Linked DNA regions of Homo sapiens: all the other regions are linked to region 1. The links come from fine-mapping of genetic effects on gene expression. A gene starts in region 1. Each other region holds a variant in brackets. All regions are shown on one strand. Distances are between the middles of the regions.

Region 1 (6,306 bases):
AAGAGCTAAACTCCATCTCACACACACACACACACACACACACACACACACACACACACACACAAAAGGCCGGGCGCGGTGGCTCATGCCTGTAATCCCAGCACTTTGGGAGGCCGAGGAGGCGGATCACGAGGTCAGGAGATCAAGACCATCCTGGCTAACACGGTGAAACCCCGTCTCTACTAAAAAAATACAAAAAAATTAGCCGGCTGTGGTGGCGGAAGCTTGAAGTCCCAGCTACTCGGGAGGCTGAGGCAGGAGAATGGTGTGACCCCGGGAGGTGGAGCTTGCAGTGAGCCGAGATCGCGCCACCGCATTAATTACGGCCTGGGCGACAGAGCAAGACTCCGTCTCAAAAAAAAAAAAAAAAAAAAAAAAAAAAAAGGTGCAAACAGACCATTCCACCCCCACCTCAGACCTGGATTTAGGTTATCTAGGTTGAAGACTGATGAGGGTGACGGGTACCACTGTCCAAAACAGAGTTAATAGAAGGGAATTACGGGCTTGCTTAAAAATGAAAGCTAATGTACGCCACTCAGTAACAGGTATCACACTGTAATACCATATGCATATTTTAGTCTTCACAACATTCAACACTCCCCACCTAGTGTTCCGGAAAAACTGTCCTACAGCCAGAATTACTTCCCAAACCTAACACTTTCATATCCAGAAGAAAATAAATTTTAAAACACTGTTTTGAAGAGAGTGCTGAACTCATCTCAAATTCTTTAAGAGCTCTGCCCTCTGGAATTCCCAACTTTCTCACCTTCCACAGCACAGATGAAGCCTGGACACTTTCCAAAAGCTTCCCAACCCCTTTGTTCTCCCACTTCCTGTCAAATCTCCACATCTACCAACTTAAGGCAACTTACTTCCCAAATTTCACAGCCTGCGTAATCCACAAAAACCCGCAGCTCGCTGAAGCGTGCATAAAAACTATTCATCCCTTTATCACGGAAGGCAGAAAGAAATGTGAAAGCACAAACTCCAAGGGAGCTTAAGGCCCTCAGGAGTGGAAACAAGTCTGGAGTCGGCGAGGCGCGGTGGCTCGCGCCTCTAATCCCAACACTTTGGGAGGCCGAGGCAGGCGATCACTTTAGGTCATAAGTTCGAGACCAGCCTGACCAACACGGTGAAACCCCCGTCTCTACTAAAAATACAAAAATTAGTCGGACATGGTGGCGAGCACCCGTAACCCCAGCTACTCAGGAGGCTGAGGCAGGAGACTCGCTTGAACCTGGGAGCTGGAAGTTGCAGTGAGTGGAGATCGCGCCACTGCACTCTGGCCTGGGCAACAGAACAGACTCCGTCTCAGGAAAAAAAAAAAAAGGAAGTCTGGAGTAAACCCAGAGAGAACGCGGGACGGGTGGACTGGCGGAGGAGTAAGGCGGCTGCATATAATTCCTTTCAGAAATCATGAATCGTTCTGATACGCAACACTATTTGGAAAAGTGCGGTTAAACACGAAGCAGCAGCAATCAAGCTTTAATGGTTAACGTCTGTTTCCTTTCTTCGGTCTTCACTCTAACTTTTCTACTAAATCAATAATTTGGCTTAAATTGTAGCGACAAATCCTTACTAAAATTCGCAACTCAATAAAAACGTTGAAAACTACAAAGAGCGCCGCTCAGCCTACTCTTCCCAAACAGGCTGAAGCCTCCGAGCTCGCAGGCGGCACCCCTTCGGTGGTGGCACGATCGTTCTACTTGCGCTGTTTCCTGCCCCGTTTACGTGAGAAGTTAGCACAGAAGTTTACGTCTGACTAGCAAACCCATCCTTTAAAAAATTCGCTAGTGCCAAAACCTTTCTCGAGCCAATATATGATTTGCAGTTTACACTGCGTGTGTCACTGACCTTCCTTAGGTAAGAGTTAATGTAAACTTCTTATATAAACTTCAGTTGCATCAACTACGGTGCAGATTCTTTAACGCAAAGCAAAGCAGACAAACATTCTGAGTGAGAAAGGCAGCCTGCTCTTCCACAAACTTCTGAACAATCCGTCCGGAGTTCTAGAAACAGGGCTTTGCGGTCCCCCACCTGCTTCTTCTCCCTCCGAACTTGGCGGCACGGCTGCGGCATTCCTGCTCCGCAAGCCACTCCCGTTTCTGGTTTCAGACGCGAGTGCGGGAGCCTTAGAAAAAGAAGGCGCTCCACGCCTCCCACGCTGCCGGCCCCGCCGAGCCCCAGCCGAGCCCCAGCCGGCCGCTCCCAGGCCGGGCCCCACCCCCAACCGCCGCCGCGGAGGCTGGGCCGCGTTCCGGCAAGGACGCCGGGCGGGGAGGACGCGGCCGGGCGGCCCCAGACCCCAGCCCCGGCCCCGGCCCCAGACCTGACCCAGAGGACCCCGCCCACCCTTCGCCCCGCAACCCCGGCCACGGCCCCCGCCCCGTCCAGTCCTTTCCCCGGCCGGCGACCCCGGTCACCCCCCGCGCTGTTGCCAGGCGCCGGGTGAGGTCCGCCGTCTGCCGGGCGCGCGCGGGGCCCTAGGCGACCTCCCCCGACCCTCGGAACAGACCCTCACCGAGGACAGAAGCGGCCGGTGGCGGGACGCAGGGGAGGCAGGGTGACGGCCCGAATCTCCTCACAGCTCCAGGACTGCTGCGCTGGTGGTGGCGGCGGCTCCTCGCGCTTTCCTTTCTCTCCTTTCTCCAACAACAAACAGGAAATGCGTCACGCGGCGGCGGCACGGCGGCGTCAACTTCCGCCCGACCCTGACGCCGCGCATGCGCAGTTTCCACTGCCCATACCGCGGGCCCAACCTCGGGGGCGCCCGCCCCACCTTCGCGAAGGTTCTCGGCTCTTCCGCCGCCCCGAAGAGCCCAGGAGACTGGGGGCGAGGGGGCGGGGAAGCCCAGGGCGAGGGGGCGGAGCTCGGGGCCGGGTCTACGGTACCGGGGAGCCCAGACGCGCGGAAGGCACAGAGAAGGCCGAGAAGATTCCAAATGGCACTTATTGTTGGGCCAGAAGGAGCCCATTCTGGAAACCGCGAAGTCGTCGCGCCCTTCATCTTCCTCTTGACCGGCGGCCCCCGGAGCGCGTCTGCCGCCTCTCGCTCCGCGGTCCTGCGGTGGAGCTGGGTGGCATCTCCGCACAGCGGGACGAAAGCTGGGGCGCGGGCGCGGGCGCGGGCGGAGAAGTCCCCGAAGGAGAAGAAGAACAAACCAAGCGGCGGCCAGCGAAGGCGGGCGAAGGCGCCGGCCCCCGCTTGTCAATTTAGGGAAGCCCGGATACCCTAAGTTCCCCGGCGAACGGGAGCGCGTGGAGACTTCGCCAGGGAATAGTGACTGAAGGAAACGGAAGCAAACTGTGGCAGAAAATACAGATGAAGCTTTTTAGGTTAAATCGTGGCAGTAGTTTTTCTGAAAACGCGGCGCATTTTGATAGCTGGACTTTAGGTCATCCCCAGGCTTCCTAGCCTTTCCCGCGTCCTCAGGGGTTCTGGTTCTAACCCTGGAGACCAACACCACATGCGTGTAGATGGTGACCAGCAGGAGCAGGGAGTCTCAGACCCAGTGCAGTCAGACAGGCTCCCATTCCCAGTAGCGAAAGGGTCCCGCAGACCCAAAGCCTAAGGAGCCAACAAGCAGTTCGTCCATGGAGCCTGGCCTGGATCTCCCACTGTCTTCCTCTCCAGCATTCAGCCAGATGTTTGCTACTGTGTTGTCTTAGTCCTGGCCCACCTTATCCTTTCCTTTAAGAAATAAAAATCTCAACTGGGTGCGGTGGCTCACGCCTGTAATCCCAACACTTTGGGAGGCCAAGGCGGGCGGATCACCTGAGGTTGGGAGTTCGAGACCAGCCTGACACATGGAGAAACCCCGTCTCTACTAAAAATGCAAAAAAAATTAGCCAGGTGTGGTGGTGCATGCCTGTAATCCCATCTACTGCAGAGGCTGAGGCAGAATAATCGCTTGAACCCAGGAGGAGGAGGTTGCAGTGAGCGGAGATCACACCATTGCACTCCAGCCTGGGCAACAAGAGCGAAACTCTGTCTCAAGAAAAAAGAAAAATCCCTTTTTGTTACACCTTTCCTGAACTTCAGATCCTGTGGCATGCTGACACTGAATTCCGGGGGCCTGCTCAGCCACCTTCTGAACTAACAACGCTTATGAATTCGTGATCGTTTAAGCCTGGGAGATATTCAAGTAAAAGGCACTTTAACACTTGAATCACTTTTGGTTTAAAATAGCTCGTTAGTAATGAAAGAGTTGGAGAAATGCCACCCTGAATTATGCCATATTAGGATACTGATTACTAACTAGTTCACTGATTACCACATTAGTATGCCCTCAAACTGAGGGCACATGGGGACCTGCCAATGCAGGGAGGGGCATTCTGTGAATCCCCCATTATTTACATAAAGACAGATCATCCCAAAGGGACTCAATTGTCTTGACCCCCTCCCTGGAAGTCTCATCCAGGGAAGAATGAGCCAGGATCACGGGAGAAGAGCTTCAAGGGACGTCAGCTGCACACCCAGACAGATTTTGCCACAGGCCACCACCTATTCTGAAGGCAAAAAATCATTTTCTCTCCCCTGAGCTGCCTGCATCTGCCTCCCCTCTCTTCTATGAAGGGGCTGTATAAGCTTCCAGATCTCACTGGATTCTGGGATGCCCTAGTACATGTTATAGATTTGTATACTTTTTCTCTTACGAATCTGTCTATTGTCAGCTTAGTTCAGAGACTCAGTTGTGAAACCTTCAGAGAGTACAGGGAAAATTTTCCGTCTACACCTGCCTCATTTTAGACAACTGGAACACTTGGTTAATGGCTGTAATTGTTATACTTCAAAATGAAATACTGCCCTTTTTTTTTTTTTTTTTTTTTTTTTTTTGAGACAGGGTCTTGCTCTGTCACCCAGGCTGGAGTGCAGTGGTTCAATCATGGCTCACTGCAGCCTTAACCTCCTGGGCTCAAGCAGTCCTCCTGCCTCAGCCTCCCAAAGTGCTGGGATTACCAGCATGAGCCGCTGTGCTGGGCTCATTTTTTGTGTTTCTTAAACTTTAATTGTATTACTGCATGTCATTTCTAGCAAATGATCAGTTAGCAAAGGAAAATCTGACTGGATTCTCTATTCTTATTTGAGACTGAGTCTCTCTGTCTGTCCTCCAGGCTGGAGTGCAGTGGCACAATCTAGGGTCACTGCAACCTCCACCTCCCAGGTTTAAGTGATTCTCTTGTCTCAGCTTCCTGAGTAGCTGGAATTACAGGCATGAGCAACCATGCATGCCTAATTTTTTGTATTTTTAGTTGAGATGCGGTTTCACAATGTTGGCCAGGCTGGTCTCAAACTCCTGACCTTAGGTGATCCACCCACCTCAGCCTCCCAAAGTGCTGGGATTACAGGCATGAGCCACCAAGCCCAGCCTCTATTCTCTTTTTTTACTGGTTATATAAATGACTGTTCAAAAGGAAGAAATAATAGTTTGTGTTAGTATGGGCATCTCATAATAAAACCTAAAATAATCTCAGCAAAGACTGGAATTTCAGATATGTGCACAGCTTGGCACTGTCACATGTAACCTATCTGCTTGCAGATTGATGGAGGTTTAGTTCCATCTCAGTGTGGACAGACAGTACTATCATGGGACATTTTACATGTCAATACGTCCCTACAGTGATTGTGAGCTCATCTTGAAATGTAAGCAGCACAGACATGAATTTTACATTGTAAGTGGTAGGCTAGCCACAAATAGCTTTTCCCCCTTCGAAAAAGAAAATATATGTGTGTGTATGTGTGTGTGTGTATATATATATACACACACACACACACATTAAAACGCGTATCAGGCTGGTCACAGTGGTGCACACCTGTAATCCCAGCACTTTGGGAAGCTGAGGCAGGAGGATTGCTTGAACCTAGGAATTCCAGACCAGCCTAGGTAACACCGCAAGACCCCATTTCTACCAAAAATAAATTATTTTTTTCTGGCACTTTGGGAGGCCGAGGCGAGAAGATTGCTTGAGCTCAAGAGTTCGACAGCAGCCTGGGCAACTTGGTGAAACCCCATCTGTACAAAATATAGCAAAATTAGCCAAGTGCGGTGGCACACACCTATAGTCCCAACCACTCAGGCGGCTGAGGTGGGAGAATCACCTCAGCCCAGGGAGGTCCAGGCTTCAGTAGAGCACCACTGTACTCCAGTCTAGGCAACACAGACCCTGTCTCAAAAATAAATACATAGAAAATTATGACCAGGCACAGTGGCTCACGCCTATAATCCCAGCTCTTTGGGAGGCTGAGGTGGGCAGATTACAAGGTCAGGAGTTCGAGACCAGCCTGGCCAACATGGCGAAACCCCA
Region 2 (6,306 bases), 22 kb before region 1:
CAGCATACCCCTCAAAATTTCAGACTAGTATACTAATCTGACAGTGCTTTTAACACTAGGCAAGTTATTACTGTAAAGCTGTTGTGGCTCAATTTAACTTACAACATGTTCAACAAAACCTTGGCTTAACCATACTAAAATCTGATTAAAGCTGGAGTCCAGAATACTTAACAGTAATTTATGTCACTGTGGACCTAAACAAACATGTAGCAGCCGGGCGCAGTGGCTCATGCCTGTAATCTCAGCACTTTGGGAGGCTGAGGCAGGCAGATCACGAGGTCAAGAGATCGAGACCATCCTGGCCAACATGGTGAAACCCCGTCTCTATTAAAAATATAAAAATTAGCTGGGCATCATGGCAGGCGCCTGCAGTTCCACCTACTCGGGAGGCTAAGGCAGGAGAATCGCCTGAACCTGGGAGGCAGAGGTTGCAGTGAGCCGAGATCACGCCATTGAACTCCAGCCTGGGTGACATAGCGAGACACCGTCTCAAAAAAAAAAAAAAACGTGTAGCAGTGGATCAAATAACCCTAAATGTGCCAGAAATCCTCAGTCAAAAATAACAGACCATACAAAAGACAAAAGAGAAAAAATGATTAGTGTGCAGTACTACCTATCATCTAGTGTTCATATGAAAACTTGGCAATGGATGAGAATGCAGGACAAGATTCAACTGTGTATGCCCCAGTCATACACTACTAAAATATTTAAAAATCAAGGTGTAATACAACACGATATGCAAGTGTAAACAGTGCCAAATGACTTTGAATGTTGACCTTCAGATCTGTTGGACCTGCACACCAGTACTTCAGCACCAAGGAAGGAAGGCCCATGGTGTGTGACTCAAACCCAGGAAGAGTCTGGTATCTCAGGAGAGATGCAGAACAGGTGGCAGCCACAGACCTTTAAGTCTTCAATCAAAAACTGTCAACACACAAAGCCAAGGGTACACAAGATAGACTAACAGCACGCCCCCATAGCTATCATTCTGCTCATTTTTAAAAGTCAGCATTTATACAACTGTACACTCAGGAGTGCAGGAAATCTCACTGCTTTTAAAGGTAACAGCCTTTTCTAAATTCCTACTTCAACGTCATGCTAGAGACACTCAGCAACCTGTATGTTCTCAGAAACAACTAAAACCAATCTACTCTCTAATGACCTCTATCATAAAGGTATGTAATTTCCATCATTACTGAAAGCACTGTACACATATTATGCTTATCCATTGATAAGGGCTGGCTATGTCCCCACCCAAATCTCAACTTGAGTTGTAACTCCCAGAACTCCCAGGTGTTATGCGAGGGACCCAGGGGGAGGTAACTGAATCATGGGGACTAGTCTTTCCCGTGCTATTCTCCTGATAATAAGCCTCACAAGACCTGATGGGTTTATAAGGGGTTTCCGCTTTTGCTTCTTCCTCATTCTCTTGCTGTCGCCATGTAAGAAGTGTCTTTCGCCCTCCTCCATGATTGTAAGACCTCCCCAGCCATGTGGAACTGTAAGTCAAATTAAACCTCCTTTTCTTCCCAGTCTCAGGTACGTCTTTATCAGCAGCGTAAAAACAGACTAATACATCCATTAACTTATTCGAGAGGAGTAAGGTATTCCCAACTGTCTTCGTCTTATAATCTGTCAAGTATGCCTGGCTGTTAACATTACTGATAAGAATAGTGTGAGCCTCAAGTGTGCAGCACAGGCTTCCTCACAGTGTGGGAAACCTCACTCTACTAGTGACAGCATCAGGGCCTGCCTGACCTCTCCTCAGTAGACTGCTTCTACTAGGTTCCTCGGCAGAGGTTTCAAATAACCTTCAGGCAACGTCAGCCATCCTGACTTGGCTTTTTTGAGACAGGGTCTCGGCTTGGTTGCCCAAGCTGGAACACAGTGGCACGAACATAGCTCACTGCAGCCTCAACCTCCTGGGCTCAAGCAATTCTCCTGCCTCAGCCTCTGGAGCAGTTGGGACTACAGGCATGTGCCACCACACCCAACTATTTTTTTTTGGTCAAGACAGTATCTCATTTTGTTGCCCAGGCTGGTCTCAAACCCCTGGGCTCCAGTGACCCTCCCACCTAGGCCTCTCGAAGTGCTAGGATTAGAGGTGTGAGCCACTTGCCTGGCCGTAATTTAGCATTTTAAAATGAACTATCTCAGCTACACACAGTGGCTCACAAATATAACCGCAGCAATCTGGGAGGCCAAGGCAAGAGAATCGCTTGAGCCCAGGAGTTTGAGACCAGCCTGAGCAACATATTGAGACTCTGTATTTTTATTAAAATTTAAAAATTAAGCAAAATGAACTATTTGGCCCCCAAAAAAGTTAATTCTATCTTCAGACCCACTAAGTCTAGCAGTATAGACACTCCATTATTTATTAACAATTTTTTTAAGTTGGTTCCAACTATTCCAGGCTAACTGCTCTCTAGCTATGTTAAAATCTAACAATCTGTTTCATGACGTCTTTGCTGTATACTCTACATTCACAGTTAACACCTCATTAATTAAACAGACTAAGGTTACCGTGAGAGCCTTCTGTGGCTGAACTGCCCTCCTCACAATGGCCAGGCCCTGGTCACACAGATGCAGGTACCACAGGCAGCGCTGCAGTTCTCGAACTTTCATATGAATCAGAAGGGACTCCAGTGGCATAGGCCGGAGCCCAACAATCACAACAAGAAAATTTGAGTGCTATGTACTCTGGGCCCCTGCCTTCCAAAGGGGCACTCAAGAATGCCAAGTCAGCTCCATTTTCAAAGTCCAATGTAAAAGATGTTTGGGATTATCTCACATCCTCAGTGAAACAATCATCAACTTCAGATATAAACCAAGTGACTGACTAATGAAGAGCAAAGCCCAGGCCTAGACTGCAAATGCTCGTTAACTGCTCTGTCAAATTAAACTATGTGGCATTCAAAGACTGGTATACTACATTAAAAGCCATTTTCATAGGCAATAGAAGAAGTTATACTACTCAATTACCAATGTACCACTGTGAAAATGCATTACCACAGAAATAAAACTACTTACGCCTTTTTAATATCCTCGGGTGAGGCATGTCTCTGCACGCCTAGAACTTCATAGTAATCCACCATGTTTTACGAGATTGTTGGAATGGGTCCTGCAAGTAAAAACAGGTGGTCAGTGATGAGGCTGCTGGGGATGGGCAAATCACGGTGGTGGGATGGGTCTGGAGAGGGAGGAAGGGGTGGTGTCACCTTAGCACC[T/CT]ACTGGCCTACAGAGGGAACTTCCACTAGAGCTAACCACTAGCCTGCTGGGCCAAGACCTTGTCTGGGAACTGGTTCCCAGATTCATGCCCTAAGACCCTTCTAGAGACGGGGAAAAAAGCTCTGAAATAGCCTAATAATAGCCTAAACTAAACAACAGGTGACTCTAGGCAGAGACTCCGTGCCACTTGACCACTAGCTGACAAAGTCTGTCATGTGTTCCTAGACACGGTCTGTGCTCAGGGAACGTCAGTTACCTCTTTCATTCAATGCATTCCTGTGCCAGGCATCGGGCAAGACCACGGGGCTCCAAGGACAAACACGTTGTCCCTGCCCTGAACTAACTTCACATGGGAACAATAGAAAGCCATCCTTCCACCATTCTGTCACCCACACGAGGGAACAGCAAAAGCCCTCCCACACATCTCCCAAGAGAGAAAGACCTTTGACTACACAGCAGTTAGCGTTAACTTTACCCTCTGGTTCCAAGCTCCCATCCATTCCTCTACCAAAGAAATACAATATTGCCCTGTTGACCACACTAATTAGATAGTATCACTACCGAATGGAAGGTGGAAAACCAGCAGCAGAGATTCATTCTCTAAGTTCCCCTATGGATTACGTGGTTCAACCTTGTTACTTCCCCGGGCAGTAAAATGTACAATGAAACCCATTCTGCTTCTGCCAGCTCTAATGGAGGATGTAGCCTCTGGTCCCACAAGGAGGAACTACGCACACTGCTGCTTTAAGATGTGACGTTTCCTAACCAATTTACTTCTTTCAATTTGACTGGCTAACCTACTCTTTTAAAACAACAATCAAGAATCTGCACAGCCGGGCGCGTGGCTCACACCTGTAATCCCAGCGCTTTAGGAGGCCGAGGGAGGTGGATCACTTGAGGTCAGGAGTTCGAGATCAGCCTGGCCAACATGGTGAAATCCTGTCTCTACTAAAAATACAAAAATTAGCCGGCATCGTGGTGCACACCTGTAGTCCCAGCTACTCGGGAGGCTGAAGCAGAATTGCTTGAACCCAGGAGGCAGAGACTGCAGTGAGCTGACATCGTGCCACCAGACTCCAGCCCATGCCACCGGACTCCAGCCCGGGCGACGGAACGAGGAAGGAAGGAAGGAAGGAAGGAAGGAAGGAAGGACGGAAGGAAGGACGGAAGGAAGGACGGAAGGAAGGAAGGAAGGAAGGAAGGAAGGAAGGAAGGAAGGAAGGAAGGACAACAGTATCACAAAGCCACAAAGACACATCTGTGGAAACTTCAACTCTTGGTTTTTGTTTTTTGTTTTTTTTTTTAATTGAGACAGGGTCTCACTTTGTTGCTGATCTTGGTCTCAAACTCCTGGGCTCAAGGATTCTTCCCACCTCAGCCTCCCAAAGTGCTGGGACTGCAGGCATGAGCCACCAAACCTGGACCTAAAACTCTTGTTTTTATGGAAGTCCTTTCATCAAAAAAACAAAAAACTATAATGGAAATCAGGATCTATTTAGATGTATATAAACTACATTATCAATTCGACAGAATGACTAACATCAAACTTAGAAAAGAAATGTACATCTTCAAATACATGACAGCAAAGATTCTAGGTGTTAAGTTTAATATGCCAACTACAAGATACGGAATTTAGAGTATCAAAATGTTCTTTTTCTTAAGTAGATTTGTTCCCAGTATTTTTAAAATTACAACTTAGAAAAAAACTTGTTCCTATTTTCTTGTAATTATTCCAATTTAACGTTATCAGCTTTGCTGGATACATAATAAAACAAAGATAAAATATTAATTGGAGAATGTGCCTAAGGGTATACCACTGCACAGTTCTTTCCACTCCATTTGGAAATAATCAATATAAAATATTAGGGACTTCATGTAATAAGTTACAAGGTAAGGAACCCCTAGTTATGAAAGATTTCCTCCCTGGTAGTTAGAATGACATGGCAACATACAGGATTCAAGCCACACAGGTCCGACCAGTCTCTAGAGAAAAGACAGGAGTCGACTCCCGTAAGTAGGAACACCGCAATCTTCTTTCAGTAACTAAAAACCTGCCCATCAGTCACAGCACACAAGACAGAGCAGGCAACAAGCAGCAGGAAAGCCAGCGTTTCTTCACGTCTCCCTCATTCCCTTGGCTGAGTGACTACGTGAGGTTATTTTCACTCCAGCTCCAGTTTGCTGCCAACGATCTGAGGTGGCATTTTGGCAGTGATGCCAGTGGCAGTACCTAGCAGAAACAGAGGGAAGCTGCTAATCCACTCTCACTAACAGAACAAGAGCAGAAATCTCAGTACCAGTCTCCCCATGCCAGACATCTGGATCATCCCCTCTGAGCACTATATATAGCAAGAGGCCATTCAATGTGCCACACACCAAGCACACATGCCCTCGCAAGTCCAAACAGCTCATCTTCTATCTGCACTTGTGTGCCTGTGTTTGTGCATATGGTGGTGGGAATGGGAGGAAGACACCTCCCGAGGCAGTGAGCACAGAGGTGAGAACGTGGGTGTGGGTGAGGGCCGCGTGGCCAGCTGGGGAATGCTGTGATTTACTTCACCACCAAAAACACTCTCACTGAAAGCCTGCTCTGTCATGTACGTGCAGCATCCACTAACAGCACTCGGTATTCATGCAGCACTCCATCAAATGGCTAGTTTCCTTACCAAATGAAGGCTACCCTACAAGGAAAGCATAAAGGCAGTATGAGAGCCACCCCCTGGAGTGGATGCCCTCACCTCTGCGCTCCTCCTGCACTGCTTACCCTTAGCCGCTCCACTTCCTTGCCTGGACTCATCCCCCAGTCCTGCTGCAGCTCCCCACTGCCTGCCACTGGAGGCTCTTATTTAAGGTCAGTAAAAAACCCACAGCACCACCCACAGACGTTTCCCAGCTCTCCTTGTCCAACTTCTCTCTCCATCTGCCTTCCACCACCAGCTTTCACCCCTCCACTGGCCCGCTGAAGAAACCACGGGAATGCTGGCCGGGTGCGGTGGCTCACGCCTGTAATCCCACCACTTTGGGAGGCCGAGGCGGGCAGATCACGAGGTCAGGAGATCAAGACCATCCTGGCTAACAC
Region 3 (6,306 bases), 33 kb before region 1:
ACTCCTCGCCGAGCTCCTCTACGTCCCCAGGGCTGGCCCCGTCCTCGCTGGATATGAGCCCCAGCTCCTCGCTGAAGGGCTCGCCCAGGCCCCAGTTACATCCTGTGCAGGCCTCGTCCTCACTAGACAGTGCCAGGTCCTTGCTGGATATCAACACATCCAAGGCCTCACTGTTCTCTTCACCAGGGCTGTCCTCTGTGGCCTCCTCCACCCTGGGCAGCTCTACTAACTCCTCACTAGGCTCCAAGTCCTCACCGGCCACTTCCTCAAACCCTGGGAGAGTAAAATGACTGACTACTATCATAATTTAATCACAGGTCAGAAAGTCAGGTTACTATCCTCAATGCACTCATTTTTCCTGCAAGAAGTCTGCTTTCCTTGGTTCTACATACCACAGGACTCCTCCTCTATTGCTACAGAGCATCATTCGTACCACAGTGATGCTTTACAAAGGAAAAACTTGCTGCACTGCTAAAATAAAAGGCCTCTCTGGAAACCTTAAAGGTTCGCTTTGGTTTTCCAAGAATATAAATAAAATGTGAAGTTAAACCCACAGGCTTTTCCCAGATGTAATGCCTGCTGTGACTAATGGGATCAAAAGGCACTATTATCAGGTACCCTTTCTTTCCTATCTCAGAACATCATTTCACTGAGCAATAGGGTCCTCTAATAATAAAATAAAGAGAGCATCCTAATTCAAATAAGTCCACTGCCTATTAATATTTTCCAATTAACATTTCGACAAGAGCTCATTTGCATGTGCTCCACATTCTGGAAATTTCGACAGTCACCTAGCCTCAGCAGTTTTGATTGTACCCCTCCAATTCAGAGGCAGCATTCCTTCCAGGCTGGTGTTAGAATCCGCCTCCGCGACCTCTCCTGGGAGGGCTTCTTCTGTAAAGGACGGGTTCCACACCGCAGGCCCCAGGCCCAAGTCTCCTTGGCCACAGTGTGACAGTGAGCACTGCCTGGTGCTCAGGCACAGACCTGCATACCATGTGTCCAACATCCGGCACCCCTTCACCCTTCCCCACCTATCATGAGGGAGGTCTGAAGTACAGCAGGGGTTCTGCATTCTGATAAATGTAAAGTGCAGCTCGGAAATATCTTACAGCACATTTTAAACTACTTTTTCGTCACGTGGAAAGTACACCAGGTCTAGTAAATATGATTTGTCAACAGCGGTCCCCAACCTTTTTGCCACCAGGGACTGGTTTCATGGAAGACAATTCTTCCACACAGTGGGTGATGGGTTGGGGTAGGGGGATGGTTTCAGATACTGGATTCTGATGAGGAATGCGCAACCTAGGTCCCTCGCGTGTGCAGTTCACAATAGGGTTTGTGCCCTTATGAGACTCCAATGCTGCCACTGAGCTGATAGGAGGTGGGGCTCAGGCAGTAATGCTTGCCTGCCTGCGCGCCGCTCACCTCCTGTTCCCAACAGGCCAGTTCGTAACAGGCCACAGACCAGGGTGTTGACCCCTGAACTACATCATGAATAAGCGGAAATCCCTCTGGCTCTGCATCCACACCCATCTACATTAAACATACCGTCAGCAGGCTGCTCAGTGACTACATACATATAGCAGCCATGGAGCAGCAGCTTCCCCAGTGTGTAAATCCTGAGAGCCTGAAAATGGAAGTCATCTAGAACACCTATAAGAACGGAATGAACAAGTATCACTGCCACACTAATCATGGGAAACACAGGGTACCTGGTCTTAAAATAGGTCTGCATGTAAAATGGAGCATTTAACAGTAAAGCGCTTCAGTAAGACTAGCACCTCTCTCCTTGGACTAGGGGTAAAAACTCACTTATTCACTCACATCTAATTAGATCTCTATACCTTCTTTACAAGTAATTGCTCTATGGCTTGGTGTATCAGATTATTTTCCCCAAGGAAAACAAAAATTAGCTACAATTCAGTCACTAAGGGACCCTTCCCCTTTGAATTAAAATAATAATCATAATGTTAAGAAAGGACCTGTTTAATCATAATGTTAAGAAAGGGCCCATTTAATAATAATGTTAAGAAGGTCCTGTTTAATAATCATGTTGAGAAACGGCCTGTTTAATAATAATGTTAAGAAGGGGCCCGTTTAATAATAATGTTAAGAAGGGGCCCATTTAATAATAACGTTAATGAAAGGCCGGTTTAATAATAATGTTAAGAAAGGGCCTGTTTAATAATAATGTGAAGAAAGGGCCTCTTTAATAATAATGTTAAGAAGGGGCCTGTTTAATAATAATGTTAAGAAGGGGCCCGTTTAATAATCTTAAGAAGGGTCCCATTTAATAATAATGTTAAGAAGGGGCCTGTTTAATAATAATGTTAAGAAGGGGCCCGTTTAATAATAACGTTATGAAAGACCTGTTTAATAATAATGTTAAGAAAGGGCCTCTTTAATAATAATGTTAAGAAGGGGCCTGTTTAATAATAATGTTAAGAAAGGGCCCGTTTAATAATCTTAAGAAGGGTCCCGTTTAATAATAATGTTAAGAAGGGGCCTGTTTAATAATAATGTTGAGAAGGGGCCTGTTTAATAATAATGTGAAGAAGGGGCCCGTTTAATAATAACGTTATGAAAGGCCTGTTTAATAATGATGTTAAGAAGGGGCTCGTTTAATAATAATGTTATGAAAGGCCTGTTTAATAATAATGTTAAGAAGGGGCCTGTTTAATAATAATGTGAAGAAGGGGCCCGTTTAATAATAACGTTATGAAAGGCCTGTTTAATAATAATGTTAAGAAGGGGCCTGTTTAATAATAATGTGAAGAAAGGGCCTCTTTAATAACAATGTTAAGAAGGGGCCTATTTAATAATAATGTTGAGAAACGGCCTGTTTAATAATAATGGTAAGAAAGCCCTGTTTAATCATAATGTTAAGCAGGGCCTGTTGAAGACGCCCGGTCTCAGACATCACGAGGACAGCCCGTTTCACCTCGTGTGCCCCAGAAGAGAAGCCATGGTGTTGGAAGAGCGGGCCTTCTTCCTCGCTTGGTCACCA[T/C]GAGAATCACCGATCAGAACACAGGACTTCAACCCAAACACTGCCCTGTCCTGCAAAGCAACAAATGCAGTTTGCTGAAGGCTACAGCAAGATGCAAAGGTCATTTTTAAGACAGAGATCAATCCGTAAATTATTTTTCTTAGAGAAATATTTCTTGCCTGTGAGGGTTGATGAAGGACGGATGTAAACATGGTTCTTTCTTGAGCTCTGTTTCTGCTGATGGCAGCAGTGATTACAGCAAATGCACTTAAACGATGAGCACGCCAGTCTCCCGGTCCCCTAATCGGAAATCGCCTGCTCAGCTTCAGTTTCCCTGAAAATGCTTGAGGCCACTGACTGTCCTTCCTCCCTCAGAAAGGGGCTCTCTTCAAGCCAGCCAGCCCATAATAAGGTGTAAGAACAACCTCTTTGAATCCCCATTTGAGACACACTGAAGAACTGCACCATGCAAAAGGCCCAAGACCTACCAGATATGAGAGTGATTATGCTTCTTCGTGCCTGCGGCAGGCAGGAGCTCCACGTTTCTCCCCTGTATTATCTGTAGACACAACTACTCTTCTCTTTCCCTCCTCGAGTTGCAGGTGGTGTTCAGTTTCTTCACCCAAGCTCCAGGCAATGAAGGAGGTAAACATACAATGTGTTTCCCTTTCAATAAGTCAAAAGACAAAAACAACTACAGGAGTACATGTTTAATCCTGACCTCTCAGGTCACCCAGTGCACCACTCAGGAAGTCCCAGTGGTTGAGAAGACTCTAACAGGAGACAGCTAACAAAAGTGCCTGACCCAAACTGTGCCCAAGACATACACCAACGCCTAGGACCAGGCATCAGGACTGAGATGCCACTGATGAGAAATCCATTTTCCTACAATCAAACAGCAGCTATAACAGCACTGTCTCCCTTAACAAAACCATTCTCTCCTCAGCAAAGGCCTCCGCAGTCTTGCTCTAGAGGTGCCTTTCCGCAAACTCTCAACAACAGTCCTCACACACAATGTTTACGGATGAAAGGTCTTGCCAACAGTACTATGGTGCTTAATGATTTTACCAGGAATATGATGTGGCAAATTCACACACCAATTGGTTGTTCAATGGGAAACAACGTTTCCAAGACACTCGCACCCATGCCCTTACCACTGTCTCTTCTGAGGGCAAAAGCAAGTTAATTAAGGCCATACATAACAAAGAAAAAAATACATTAAACCCTTTATTATTTTAATTTTTCAAGCTGTAACTTAAATTTTCAAAGAGGAAGAAGAGAAAAGATTTTACAGCTACTGTGCTGTTTTATTTTTTTGAGACAGGGCCTTGCTCTGTCACCCAAGCTGGAGTGCAGTGGCCCAATCTCAACCTCCCAGGCTCAAGGAAATCCTCCCACCTCAGCCTCCCAAGTAGCTGGGACCACAGGCACACGCCACCACACTCAGCTAATTTTTAGTATTTTTTTTGTTGTTGTTGAGACAGGGTTTCACCATGTTGTTCAGGCTAGTCCAATGCTGCTTTAAACACAAAGTTTCGTGACAAAATACAATGTTAACTTTTTTTTTTTTGAGACAGGAGTTTCACTCTTGTTGCCCAGACAACAATGCAATGGCATGATCTCAGTTCACCGCAACCTCTGCCTCCCGGGTTCAAGTGATTCTCCTGCCTCAGCCTCCCAAGTAGCTGGGATTACAGGCATGCGCCACCATGCCCGGCTAATTTTGTATTTTAATAGAGACGTGGCTTCTCCATGTTGGTCAGGCTGGTCTTGAACTCCCAACCTCAGGTGATCTGCCCGCCTCAGGCTCCCAAAGTGCTGGGATTACAGGCATGAGCCACCGCGCCCAGCCTAAAATACAATGTTAATTCAACAGAAAGGCCATACTAAGTAAGCCCTCATTTGGGTCATGGACACACACCAAGTCAACCCACGTGATTAACTTACCAAAGAAGTCAAATGAAAATGGGTCCCTTCCACCAAAAAATTCCCTGAAGACATCATCTGGGTTACGGAATGTGAAGCCAAATTCAAATGGACTGTCAAAATGACTTCCACCTGCACAAATACAACACAGCTTTTAGTTTATGAATTTTGGTGCTTTGTAGGCAAAGAATTCTTTGTTGACAAAACATTATACAAATCATGAACTAATAAAAACAAAAATATTTCATAAACCTGAAGTTCTCTATAATTCAAAACATGAGCCCTGTACTGACAGAGAGTGAGTGTGCCCAGCGCTGATGGCATATGAGTGCAGCAGTGGCCCCTTCGACACTACTTTTCACCATCTCTAAATCCGTGATCGGCATATAACATGTAACATTACACACCATTTTTATGATTTGTTATGAAGGTTTATGAAGACCAAGAGTATCTGCATCCACTTCGACGACTGGCCTCCTGGAGCCACAGAAGCTGCCGCGTGGCCCCAGTGGGTTTGGAGCAATAATTTCCCAACACCCCTGGGGAGGCTGGTCACAGCCCAGTGACCGTGGGAACTTTTGGGGACAAAGTCCACGCCCTTCAAAGTCATTATTTTAGCTTTTCAGGAAAATCTGCTCTTTAAACCCTTAGGATATTTTGACATAACGTCAAGTGCTGATCTAAGGGTATATGTTCACAATATATTGCAGTATGGTTACAAATTGTTTCTATCTATAAAAAATACATCAACATATACTTCTAGTCTCGTAAAAGACTTTTAAATGCCATCAATTTCTCTGTCCTCTCCCCAATTTAGTTCGCTTTCTACGTTGCATCTCTATTTACTGATACAAAATCGACTCTGACCAAGAGACTCGTGATTTACAAACTCAACTTACTTGCCAAGACCTTTTGTCTTCAAAGAAAAAACTCACGTACTTACCTCCTCCTCCACCATTTAATCCTTCTTTGCCATATTTGTCATAGATGTCCCGTTTCTTAGCTAAAAATTGAAAGAAAAGTCGGTAAGGCCAAGTTCCTTTTAAACCCTTAATTCAATAGATAAGGTATTTCCCCAGTTGTAAATCAGTTTTCGATGTTTTACAACTGAATTTCAAGGAGTATGGCCACCTTTTCTTTAAAACAAAACAAAGCAACAGGGAAAACTTTCTGTACCTCTCTCCTGAAAAACAATTCAAAAAAAATTCAGTATGTTGAATTTTTACAAGTTATTAGAAATATTTAAGTATTTACGGCCAGGCATGGTGGCTCACACCTGTAATCCCACCACTTTGGGAGGCCAAGGTGGGCAGATCACCTGAGGTCAGGAGTTTGAGACCAGCCTGGCCAATATGGTGAAACCTCATCTCTTGTAAAAATACAATAATTAG
Region 4 (6,306 bases), 31 kb after region 1:
CCTGTAATCCCAGCTACTAGGGAGGCTGAGGCAGGAGAATCGCTTGAACCCGGGAGGCAGAGGTTACAGTGAGCCAAGATCGTGCCACTACACTCCAGCCTGGGCAACAGAGCGAAACTCCATCTCAAAAAAAAAAAAAAAAAAAAAAGCCATCTAAAACCCACAAATACCGAGATGAAAGTGATTTCTGGTTGTCCTCACTGCTCATTATATGCTAATTTTTTTTTTTTTTTTTTTGAGACTGTGTCTCGCTCTGTCGCCAGGCTGGAGTGCAGTGGCGCGGTCTTGACTCACTGCAACCTCCGCCTCCTAGGTTCAAGCGATTCTCCTGCCTCAGCCTCCCAAGTAGCTGGGATTACAGGCACCTGCCACCATGCCTGGCTAATTTTTGTATTTTTTTTGAGACGGAGTCTTGCTCAGTCGCCCAGGCTGGAGTGCAGTGGTGCGATCTCAGCTCACTGCAAGCTCCGCCTCCCGGGTTCATGCCATTCTCCTGCCTCAGCCTCCTGGGTAGCTGGGACTACAGACGCCCACCCACCACGCCCGGCTAATTTTTTGTATTTTTAGTAGTGACGGGGTTTCACTGTGTTAGCCAGGATGGTCTCCATCTCCTGACCTCGTGATCCGCCCGCCTCGGTACCCCAAAGTGCTGGGATTACAAGCGCGAGCCACCGCACCCAGCCTCATTTTTGTATTTGTTTTCACCATGTTGACCAGGCTGGTCTTGAACTCCTGACCTCGTGATCCACCTGCCTCGGCCTCCCAAAGTGCTGGGATTACAGGAGTGAGCCACCTCCCCAGCCCATTATATGCTAATTATAACACATTAGCTGCTAAAAACCACTCCCGCCATTGCCTTGACAGTTTACAAATGCCATGGCAACGTCAGGAAGTTACCATATATGGTCTAGAAAGGGGAGGAACCCTCAGTTCCAGGAACTGCCCACCTCTTTTGAAGAAAACTCATGAATAATCCACCCCTTTGTTTAGCACATAATCAGTAAATAACCATAAGTATTCTTACTCAGACAGCCTAAGCTGCTGCTCTGCCTATGGAGTAGCCATTCCTTTGCTTTCCTAGTAAACTTGCTTTCACTTTACTCTATAGATTCACCTCAAATTCTTTCTTGCGTGAGATCCGGGAACCCTCTTTTGGGGTCTGGATCAGGACCCCTTCCTGGTATAGTTCCGCAGAGCTATAAGAAGCAAAGAAGGGCTGGATGACGGAGGCCTGGATGGCATTCTGAGCTACAGAAAGGAAGAGGAGTTGGGGTTTCTGGGTGTGATGGAGACAAGTTTTGGGGTGGTCCAGGAAGAATGGGTCTGGTGAACAAACGTTGCCTTGTTATGCGGAAGAAAGCCTGCAGGTGATGGGAGCAGATAATTCAGAAGCAGGGGACCGAGAAACCCAAGTCTGTCCGACGAGCAGGTGAGATGCTCACACAGCTGGTGCAGCCCTCAAAGCGCAGTCAGAGGTGTGGCCGTGAAGCGGAGTGGACAAACCAGGAGGTGGAAGCTGGTTGGAGCCTCGGGCGAGGGAGAGTTCACCTAGTTAGAGTGGCGGGGCCTCCCAAAGTGCTGGGATTACAGGCATGAGCCGCCGCGCCCGGTCAGAAAGTACATTTTTAAGAAACTCCTTGGTTGTAAAATATGACATAATTGGTCTGAGGCTACTGATGGCCAGTGTGGACCTGCACACACTCTGCTGCCTACCCTCCGGAGATGGGATGGAACAGAACCATAGTATATGTGCAGAATCGACTTTTCAAAGTTTGGGAAAATTCCGAGTTCCAAAGCACATTGGGTCCCAAGAGTTTCATGAAGGAGCTGTGGCTGCACACAGCTGGTGTCTTGTTTGGCAGATGTCGGACCTGAGGCTCTGTGTGGCCCTGGCCCAACCTCCTCTCCACGTGCATTTACTGGGATGCTGACTTAGAGAGCTGTGCTGGGTTGAGCTTTCCTAGTGGATTCAAGTCCACCAGGGCTCAGCGGGACGTCTTCAGAGACAGATGGGTTTTCTTTAACCCTATATAACGTGACTTACTTTCCAATCTGACTCTGGCATAACATTACATGACAAAGAAGAAAATCAAAATATTTTACCCCAAATCATGTTTCTTTGCCATATTTTGAAATGGCCCTGCAAAGCATCCTTTGTGGGGGAAAAATGCATCTGTAAAGAGTCTCTAGTAACATAGATCTTTTTCTTCCAGGCCCTCCCAATCCTGAAGACAGTAACTGAAAGTCTAGCACCTTTTAAAGATCTGAACAGGAAACATTTGTCATCTTTTGTCTCTAAGGGCAGCCGCGATAGATTCAAAAAAACCTTGGTCTCCACGGTCTTTGTGTGTGTGTGTGTGTGTGTGTGTGTGTGTGTGTGTGTGATGGAGTCTTGCTCTCTCGCTCAGGATGGAGTGCAGTGGCACGGTCTCGGCTCACTGCAACCTCTGCCTCCCAGGTTCAAGCAATTCTCCTGCCTCAGCCCCTCCCTAGTAGTTGGAATTACAGGTGCACGCCTCCACGCCTGGCTAATTTTTGTATTTTTAGTAGAGACAGGGTTTCACCATGTTGGCCAGGCTGGTCTTGAACTCCTGACCTCAAGTGAAACTCCTGCCTCAGCTTCCTAAAGTGCTGGGATTACCGGTGTGAGCCACTGCACCCACCCAACAATCTTTTATCTTTTTTTTTTTTTTTTTTT[TG/G]AGACAGAGTTTTGCTCTTGTTGCCCAGACTGGAGTACAGTGGCACGATCTTGGCTCACTGCAACCTTCCACCTCTGAGTTCAAGCGATTCTCCTGCCTCAGCCTCCTGAGTAGATAGGATTACGGGCATGTGCCACCACATCCGGCTGATTTTATTTATTTTTATTTATTTATTTTTTGAGACAGAGTCTCACTCTGTGGCCCAGTCTGGAGTGCAGTGGCATGATCTCAGCTCACTACAACCTCCATCTCCTGGGTTCAGGTGATTCTCCTGCCTCAGCCTCTCTAGTAGCTGGGATTACAGGAATGCACCACCACGCCCGGCTAATTTTATATTTTTAGTAGAGACGGGGTTTCACCATGTTGGTCAGGCTGGTCTCGAACTCCTGGCCTCAGGTGATCCACCTGCCTCAGCCTCCCAAAGTGCTGGGATTACAGGCGTGAGCCACTGCGCCCGGCCTACAATCTTTTATGTTAACCTGAACATTTCCTTTCTGTCGATCCCAGGTCTTTAGATAAACTCAACCAATTGTCAACCAGAAAATGTTTAAACTTACCTATAGCCTGGAAGCCCCCGCTTTGAGTCGTCCCTCCTTTCTGGACCAAACCCAAGTCTCTCTCTCTCTCTCTCTCTTTCTCTCTCTCTCTTTCTTTTTTTTTAGACGGAGTTTCGCTCTTGTCACCCAGGCTGGAGTGCAGTGGCACAATCTCGGCTTGCTGCAACCTCTGCCTCTCGGGTTCAAGCGATTCTCCGGCCTTAGTCTCCTGAGTAGCTGGGATTACAGGCGCCTGCCACCACGCCCAGCTAATTTGTTTGTATTTTTAGTAGAGACGAGGGTTTCACCATGTTGGCCAGGCTGGTCTCGAACTCCTAACCTCAGGTGATCCACCCGCCTCGGCCTCCCACAGTGCTGGGATTACAGGCGTGAGCCACTGCACGCGGCCAAAGTATTTCTTAAATGCATTTGATTGATGTCTCATGCCTCTCTAAAATGTATAAAGCTGCGCCCCAACCACCTTGGTTCCATGTTCTCAGGACCTCCTGAGGGCTGTGTCATGGGCCATGGTCACTCGTATTTGGCTCAGAATAAATTTCTTCAAATATTTTACAGTTTGACTCTTTCTTTGACATTTCCTATATGTGTGTGGTTCTTGGAATTATTTTTAAACCAGTTGTAACATCTGAACGAGTTACATGAAATCTTTTAACACATGCTCATTTTATATCTGTATGAATCACGACTATATTCTTTTTAAAAGTTATCTTTTGCTGGGGTCGAGGGTGGTGGCTCCTGCCTGTAATCCCAGCACTTTTGGAGGCTGAGGCAGGAGGATTACTTGCTGCCAGGATTTCCAGACCAGCCTGGGCAATATAACGAGACCCCATCTCTACAAAAAAAATTTAAAAATTAGCTGAGTATGGTGACGCGTGCCTGTAGTCCCAGCTACTCAGGAGGCTGAGGTGGGAGAATCTCCTGAGCCCAGGAGGCTGAGGTTGTAGTGGGCCGTGAGTGCACTACTGCACTCCAGCCTGGAGACAAGGCGAGACCCTGTCTCAACTTAAAAAAAAAAAAAAGAAGTTATCTTTTACTATCTCCTAAAGTTAAATTCCTAAAACAGAATTGCCAGGAGTGTAGGATGACTGTGTGAGCCCGGGAGCTTGAGGCTGCAGTGTGTTAAATTGATTAGGTGTCCATGCTAAATTCAGCATCAATATGGTGACCTCTGGAAGCTGGGGGCCACCAGGTTGCCCAAGGTGGGGTGAACGAGCCCATGTCAGCGGGGAACAGGAGCAGGTTAAGAGCTTCTGTGCTGACCATGGCCAGTGCCCTCCAGCCTGGGCAACATCACCAGACCCATCTCTAAAATATGAAAAGCAGGCCGGGCGCAGTGACTCATGCCTGTAATCCCAGCACTTTGGGAGGCCAAGGTGGGCGGATTACAAGGTCAGGAGTTCAAGACCAGCCTGGCCAATATGGTGAAACACCGTCTCTACCAAAAATGCAAAAATGAGCCAGGTACGGTGGCACATGCCTGTAGTCCCAGCTACTCAGGAGGCTGAGGCAGAAGAATCGCTTGAACCCGGGAGGCGGAGGTTGCAGTGAACCGAGATCCCACCACTACACTCCAGCCTGGGCGACAGAGTGAGACTCTGTCTCAAAAAGAAAAAAAAAAAAGAAAGAAAGAAACCTTGGGCTATGCTGGGCACACTGTCTACGAGGAGGACCTACCCCACAAGGAGCAGTAAAACAAAACAAAAACAACAACCACCTCAGATCCATCACAGGCTCTCCCCTTCTTCCACTTTGTCCCCGTGCACCTGCCTATGTTGGACAATTCATATGAAAGGAATCCATCTCTCTTTTCCTTTGCGACTAATTTGAATGTTATTTGATACAGCAGCATCCACATAGATTTGCAATCAGTAGCATATGTCAGTGTGAGAGACGTGACAATCAATACTCAGAGGAAGACATGCATCGTCTTTGACCTAACAATTCCACTGACAGGAACGTCTGCAGATCCATTTGCAGGAGTAGACAAAGTGAAACACATTAAATATATGCCGGGACACGCTCTGCAGCCATGGTGAGAGTGGCAGAGACTGCAGCTACCCTAAGCACTAATTCCTAAGGAACTGATGAGATGGACACAGTAGGACCATGCAATGGAGACTATGCAGCAACTGAAAAGAAGGGCAGAGGCCGGGCGCGGTGGCTCATGCCTGTAATCCCAGCACTTTGGGAAGCTGAGGCGGGCGGATCACGAGGTCAGGAGATCGAGACCATCCTGGCTAACACGGTGAAACCCCGTCTCTACTAAAAATACGAAAAAATTAGCTGGGCGTGGTGGCAGGTGCCTGTAGTCCCAGCTACTCGGGAGGCTGAGGCAGGAGAATGGCCTGAATCCAGGAGGCGGAGCTTGCAGTGAGCTGAGATTGCGCCACTGCACTCCAGCCTGGGAGACAGAGGGAGACTCCGTCTCAAAACAAACAAACAAACAAACAAACAAAAAAAGAAGGGCAGATCGGCCGGGCGCAGCGGCTCGTGCCTATAATCCCAGCATTTAGGGAGACCAAGGCAGGTGGATTGCCTGAGCTCAAGATCAGCCTGGGCGACATGAGAAAAACCCATCTCTACTAAATAAAAAATAAAAAATAAAAAATACAGGGCCGGGCGTGGTGGCTCATGCCTGTAATCCCAGCACTTTGGGAGGCCGAGGCAGGCAGATCATGAGGTCAAGAGATCGAGACCATCCTGACCAACATAGTGAAACTCCACCTCTGCTAAAAATACAAAAATTAGTTGGGCATGGTGGCTCGTGCCTGTAGTCCCAGCTACTTGAGAGGCTGAGACAGGAGAATCACTTGAACCCAGAAGGCAGAGGTTACAGCGAGCCGAGATCACACCACGACACTCCAGCCTGGACGACAGAGCGACATTCAGTCTCAAAAGAAGAAGAAGAAGAAGAAGAAGATAGAGGGAGTGGCTGGGTCAGGGTTGACATGGCCTCCTCCGAGGAAGACATACTGAATGTTCCCACCAGGAGGGAGTTGGGCTCAGAAAGACAGTCGAGCCCTGGGGCTGTGCCTGGGGCTGTGCTCACC
Region 5 (6,306 bases), 56 kb before region 1:
AATCTTATTCCACATAAAAATGTAATGACAAGTCATTCTAGTTTCTTCTCAGAGCTCCTCTGTCTTCCCATCAGGGACTTCCATAAGAAGGCATACACCACCCAGATTCAACCTCCAACTGCCTCTCCTGAAGCTCATCAGAGCTGAGAAGGCCTGAGCTCAGGAGCCCAAAGCTAAGCTCCTGCATACGCAGGAAAAACAGAGAAGCTGCCCATGCAATTCTCTTTAAAAGACAGACAAAAGCAGAACTAGATATGTTAATGTTAAAAGTCAGATAACAGATGAAACGATGAATTCATGTTAGAGCTTTTCATTCAGTTGCTATTGCTTTAACTACATTAAGTGGCCAGATGTGCCCAGCACCAACCCCCCCCCAGCCCCCTCCCAAAATGCTGCCCATTAAACGTAGTGCTCTCAAGTATGCTTCCAGCCCTGGTAATACCGGATGGGGAAGACAAACAGCTAACTCTCTGCTTTCTGGGGTTTTTTGGGAGGTGGGGGGGCGCGGCGGGCACAGGGTCTTGCTCTGTTGCCCAGGCTGGAGTGCCGAGTGGTGCAATCCTGGCTCACTGCAGCCTTGACCTCCACCAGCTCAAGCAATCCTCGCACCTTAGCCTCCTGAGTAGCTGGGACTAGAGGCGTGCACCCCCAAGCCAGGCTAATATTTTCTATTCTTTGTGGAGACAGAGTCTCACCACGTTGCCCAGGCTGGGCTCAAGCAATCCACCCGCCACGCAGCTCAGCCTCCCAAAGTGCTGGAATTACAGGCGTAAGCCACCACGTCTGGCCCACTTTCTGTATGGTTCTAAGCTCCGCTGAGAGGCGGGGACAAAATCTGCTCTTGTGATGTGTTGCTTCTTCACAAGAGGGAAATCGCACCCATCCTTAACAAATGTACTCATGATGGGCAAATCCCAATAAAGTTCCTCCCAAAAAAGCTGCAGACAAGCAAATCATTAAAAATTAAATCACAATTCATCATGGAGGAAGGACAAATTGTCCATAGAGGAGGAAAAAGTGAGGCCACTTCACACAAATGTTCTAGATGGATTCATATTTTCAACTTTTTTTTTTCTGAGACAGGGTCTCACTCCATCACCAGACTGGAGTGCAGTGGTGTCATCACGACTCACTGTAGCCTCGACCTCCAGGGCTCAAGCGATCCACCCACTTAGCCACTCAAAGTGCTGGAATACAGGCGTGAGCCACCACGCCTGGACTTAAACATTTTTTAAGGTAGATACACAGGGGCAGCATTTCTTAAGCAAGATAGAAAAAAATCCAGTAGAATACAAGCTCACAGAATTGACAAGGCAACATCTGCTGTTTCTTAACCCTTCCTTCCAAAAAATAGATGTCATATGGGTTATTTTTGAATGAAAATAGAAATTTAAAAGAACGACTTAGAAGTCAACAAAAATGTTTTACAAGTCGAACTTAAAAACAATTCTTAACATTCCTATTTATGAACAAAAGTACTGCAAATAAATATTCTGCAGAAGCACAACTAACCAAAATAGGAAGAAAAACTCAGGATAATAATAAGATATGAGAAAGGTATTCTTTTGAGAGAAACTAAACCAACAGGAAAACACTTGGAAACCTTCAGACACGGACAAATGTAAAGAATGAGAAAGGCGCATGATCACAGGCCTCAGAACACCGTGGATGCTTCCAGTGAACACATAAATTAGCAAACTGATATGAAAGAAAACCCCTCAACAAACCAGCTTAGGAAATAAAGTTTTCTGAGAGGCTCTGAATGTTCCCAACACAAAACAGTAACTGTGAGGTGGCTCTGCCATTAACCCCAATCTGATCATCACCCACTGCACACATGCACCCCGATCTGATCATCACCCACTGCACACATGCACCCTACAAATACGTACAATTACTATCAATAATTTAAAAACATTTTTAATGATTAAAAAATACCAGTAACTAGGAAATGTGCACGAAACAAATGACTTCACAGGCAGCTGAACCTGGTGTTGGGGTAGGCAGGGCATGGACGGCTCCCAACTCACCCTCCTCAAGATCACAGGGCCGGGAGCTTCACCCTCTCTACAGAATCTAAAACCCAAAGTAAAATCAAGGTACAAGAGAACCCAACAGTGCCATGTAGAGGAATTTTGGGACATAAACACAGTAACTAATCTTTCTCAGAAACATAATCACACAGTAAAATACTAAAATCAGCCTGCTGGAAAACAAGACAAAAATACTTATATCAATAAGAAAAATAAGGGTAAAAATTAGAAAATTTATAGAGTTTTCCAATTGTAAAAAATATGATATTCCAATTCTTTTTTAAAATCAGAATAGGCGAGGCGCAGTGGCTCACACCTGTAATCCCAGCACTTTGGGAGGCCAAGGAGGGCGGGATAACTCGAGGTCAGGAGTTTGGGATCAGCCTGACCAAAATAGTGAAACTCCGTCTCTACTAAAAATACAAAAAAATTAGCCAGGGGTGGTGGCAGGCGCCTGTAATTCCAGCTACTCGGGAGGCTGAGGCAGGAGAATCGCTTGAACCCAGGAGGCAGGGGTTGCAGTCAGCCGTGATCACACCACTGCACTCCATCCAGCCTGGGCGACACAGCAAGACACTGCCTCAAAAAAATAAATATAATAAAATCAGAATACCAAGACTAAAGTGATGAGATAAAAAGCAATGTAAGGCGTACCGACTTCCTGGTTTTCCATAAGTTAGAACAGAAAACACACACAGACGGCATTCCCAGCTTCATGTAGTGATACAATGAGGAAATGTGCACACCTACATATTAAGACAGCACTTTACAGCTGTCCGTAAAACAGGATGTTAAAAAAATTAGTCTGCCACATGGCTCTCGGGTGTCAAAGGCTCTCCCAAATCTACATGGGGTGTTCCTCGC[A/G]CTGACTGCACCTTTCATTTGAAAGCACGACGAAGACTGGCCTAGAAACGAGCTGGAAAGGAGCTGCGCTTCCGGATGCACACACTGCCATCCATACAGGGTGCAAGAAACCAGACAGGACGAGAGTCCGGCAGAAACGCGGGCAAGAAATCTGGGACAAAGCTGGCTGTTTCCCACACAACAACCTTTCCAAATAAATAAAAGTAAACACACACAGGATTACAAAATAAAAATATGGGGCAGCTCTGTAACAGGCACACGCACGCACACACACATCTGTGTAAATAATTAAGACTACCACACAGTAAGTCACGTGAACAAAAGAAAAACCAAAAAAAAAAAAAAAACCCACTTTCAACACAGCAGGCTAAAGACTAATCAACTAGCATGTAAAGGGCTCCTATAAAATCAAGAGAGTAAGTCCACAGAAAAAGAGGCACACGCAGGTGACACAAGATGCTTGCCCTGGATAGCCAAGACGCAAATTTTAGAAACTGTTGACAGACAGTACTAGCAAGCGTGAGGACACAGACCCCAATCCGTTGTTGATAGGAGAAGACTCCTTCTAAGAAATCATTTATGACTATCCTTTTTTTTTTTTTTTTTTGAGACAGGGTCTCCTTGTTGCCCAGGTTGGAGTGCAGTGGCTCGATCACGGCTCACTGCAGCCTCATATCCCTGACTCAAGTGATCCTTCCACCTCAGCCTCCTGAGTATCTGGGACTACAAGCGCACGCCACCAAGCCCAGCTAATTTTCATATTTTTTGTAGAGACGTGGTTTGACCATGTTGCCCAGGCTGGTCTTGAACTCCTGGGCTCAAAGCAATCAACCCACCTCAGCCTCCCAGAGCACTGGGATTACAGGCATGAGCCACTGCGCCTGGTAACTTACCGATTTTCAATGCACACGTTTCTCAAGCCAATTACTCAACTTCTAGGTACCTAATTTAACCAACTGCTCCTGCAAGTACATAAGACTCTACACAAATACCTTAAATATTATGTGGAAAAGGACATCAATATTTTGCCAGGATCCACGGAAGACTTGGGCTGAGACCCAGTGGGTGCTGCCACCAGGCATCCGCCATGGATGGGGACAACTGTGCCCAGCCACTCACTAGATAGACCACTCATGCTGGGCACAGACCCCAACTGAGGGAAACTTGTCTTTCCTGCTTGGCAGGGACTGGCAGGGAAGGCTCAGCCCCCAGCAGCCACCGCAGGAGGCCGTGTCCAGTGCCAATTCATCTGTGCAGGGACCACTGACCCATGGACACGGAAAGATACGGCTGAAAAGACTCGTGGAAAACAGCACTTTCTCGTTCAAGTTCTGCAGCTGACTTTCTCAGAGGCCTGGCATTATGTAAAGCATCCCTGGAAGTTTTGGGTAAGAGGTTACTTGGCTTAGAGCTGACGAGCAGCAAAGTTCTCAATTTGGCAGAAATGTGTGTACGAAACGTGTCTCACGCAGGCTGCAAACTCCACAGTTCCCTGATGACCACACCCCGAGCTTCTGCTCCAACTGCTGTTCCTACCAGCAATGTCCTGACATCTGGTGTAAAATGCTCTGGGCTGGGAGTGGGGGCTCATGTCTGTGATCCCAGCACTCTGGGAGGCCAAAGTGAGTGATGCGCTCGAGCCCAAGAGTTCAAGACCAGCCTGGGCAACACGGCAAAACCCTGTCTCCACTAAAAATACAAAAAGTTAGCCAGGCGTTGTGTCGCACACCTGTAGTCCCAACTGCTTAGGGGCTGAGGTGGGAGGAATGCTTGAGCCCAGGAGTTGAAGGCTACAGAGAGCTGTGACTGCACCACTGTACTCCAGCCTGGGTTAGAGAGAGAGAACTGGTCCAAAAGTTAAGTAAAATATAAAATAATATAAAGGAATGAATGAATGCATGCTCCAGGCCTCAGGAGCCACATCTCCCCCACACGCCATTATCAATTAGACCCTGTCCTTGGGCAAAGCACTTTTTGCCAACTCAGGGCAGCTGTGGGAAGGCAGAGGAAAAGGTCACCTCTCAGAGCTCGCAGCACAGCGCTGACCACACGGGAAGCAAACCACATCCCCTGGGTGAGACGGGCAGGAAGGAGGCTCCACCCCACATTTCTGCAACAATGTTTCAGCAGCAATGTTTCAGCACCAAAGCCTCCTTCAGAAAACCTCCGGTCTCTATGGTTTTGCAAGTTCTGGAAGTGATTTCCCATCAGTGCCTGAATGGCAGTCAGTTCAGTAACCAGCTAGGGGGAAGAGGAAGGACCAGGCGGGGGAATGGGATGACAGCGCTGCCCTGTTTAAGAGAGAAACCAACCTAACAGGGCAGAAAAGGACGCGATGTTAACAACTGCAGTGTGGCATCAACACTACACAGACGTTTGCTAGTCAGGGCTCCCAGGAGTGGAGAATCTTTGTAAAGCCAAGACGCAGGTCCTTCGGATCCACATGGCAAGCCTCCAACAGCAGGCTGGGCCGCAGGTCGCACAGCAGGAGGGGTGTGGGGAGTAAGCCTCTGCTCTACACTCCAGGCAGCTGTGGTCCAGGGCATCTCTGAATCAAGGGCTGTGGGACAGCAACCACCATCTGGGTTTCCGCAGCCAGCACTCACGGGATGCTTCCAGGGCACACCTGCCAGGACACAGCAGCAGCCAGACAGACGAGAATTACTGCCTTCACAGGACCTGCATTCCTGTTGGGGTTGCACTCCGAGGCAGGAATCTTCTCCCAATCAGGGTACAGGGAAAAGGGCAAAGCGCAGTCAGGGGTCTGCCCTGAGTGTGCAACTTGCCCAGGCCACAAAGCTCAGAGTCGAGTCCTTAGTGAACAGTTAGGTAAGACCGACTGATACCCTGCACAAAAGGCAGCAAATACTGACCAAAGCACAGAAGCCAGGACAGGCCTTCTAACGCCCAATCATAAACTCTGCTGTCTCTGGAAATCAGTGACGTCTAGATTTCTAACACAGGAATAGCTGCTGTGACATTCCCTCTTTTCACCTTTTTAAACAGGAAGACGAAATAACGTAGCCAAATGACAGACTTCGGTCTACCCCATTTCAACCATTGGTCACACTTTAGTACCAAGGCCTACATCTAGCTCCCCCCACGTCCCTAGAACAGCTAGGAATACCATATCCAAAGGCTTTGAAATCAAGACCCCAAAGGGTAAGATCTCATGCCTTCGTTTTTAAAAATACAAACAGCAGTGGGTTATGTAATTCAGTCCCCTCCAGACCCCACGAAACCAAGTATTCAAATCAACTAAACATAATTTTGTGCTTGAAAACCTCCGAAATAACAACATCTGCCTCCATTCTGTCACTGAACATGCTAATGGCTAAATTTCAACACTGCTGCCAATCAATAACAGAGATAATATGCCAATTATTTATTACCGTTGAATCCTCTGCAA

Alleles and levels. Alleles are on the strand shown, and positions count from the first base shown. SD is a standard deviation of normalised expression in the study named. Not every link is listed here.
For the expression in tibial nerve of the gene that starts at base 2,662 in region 1, allele C in region 3 goes with a higher level than allele T (small effect, 0.24 SD a copy in GTEx).

What was found.
Region 2: its variant is fine-mapped to the expression of DNAJB6 in whole blood (INTERVAL, PIP above 0.99).
Region 3: its variant is fine-mapped to the expression of DNAJB6 in tibial nerve (GTEx, PIP above 0.99). The same link has a PIP of 0.9 or more in breast, monocytes after LPS and unexposed skin.
Region 4: its variant is fine-mapped to the expression of DNAJB6 in whole blood (INTERVAL, PIP 0.98).
Region 5: its variant is fine-mapped to the expression of DNAJB6 in whole blood (INTERVAL, PIP above 0.99).

Annotation. Positions count from the first base shown.
Region 1 is chr7:157,333,360-157,339,665 of GRCh38, reverse strand. It overlaps DNAJB6 (DnaJ heat shock protein family (Hsp40) member B6), which reads right to left and starts at 2,662. Exons shown (of 10, transcript NM_058246.4): 1 at 2,522-2,662. RefSeq lists enhancers at 1,430-1,479, 2,208-2,711, 2,712-3,214, 5,484-5,563 and silencers at 2,140-2,329, 2,390-2,599, 2,790-2,949.
Region 2 is chr7:157,355,362-157,361,667 of GRCh38, reverse strand. DNAJB6 (DnaJ heat shock protein family (Hsp40) member B6) reads right to left here. Exons shown (of 10, transcript NM_058246.4): 2 at 3,031-3,121. The coding sequence starts at 3,095. Among named protein-coding and RNA genes, the nearest start is that of DNAJB6, 22 kb to the right of the region's middle. RefSeq lists an enhancer at 3,844-3,893. The variant T/CT (reference allele first, on the strand shown) is at 3,228.
Region 3 is chr7:157,366,114-157,372,419 of GRCh38, reverse strand. DNAJB6 (DnaJ heat shock protein family (Hsp40) member B6) reads right to left here. Exons shown (of 10, transcript NM_058246.4): 4 at 5,859-5,918; 5 at 4,937-5,047. Among named protein-coding and RNA genes, the nearest start is that of DNAJB6, 32 kb to the right of the region's middle. The variant T/C (reference allele first, on the strand shown) is at 3,011.
Region 4 is chr7:157,302,645-157,308,950 of GRCh38, reverse strand. No RefSeq gene overlaps it. Among named protein-coding and RNA genes, the nearest start is that of DNAJB6, 31 kb to the left of the region's middle. RefSeq lists enhancers at 1-212, 213-754, 6,011-6,280. The variant TG/G (reference allele first, on the strand shown) is at 2,699.
Region 5 is chr7:157,389,298-157,395,603 of GRCh38, reverse strand. The region is part of intron 8 of DNAJB6 (DnaJ heat shock protein family (Hsp40) member B6); the gene reads right to left. Among named protein-coding and RNA genes, the nearest start is that of DNAJB6, 55 kb to the right of the region's middle. RefSeq lists an enhancer at 4,759-5,359. The variant A/G (reference allele first, on the strand shown) is at 2,898.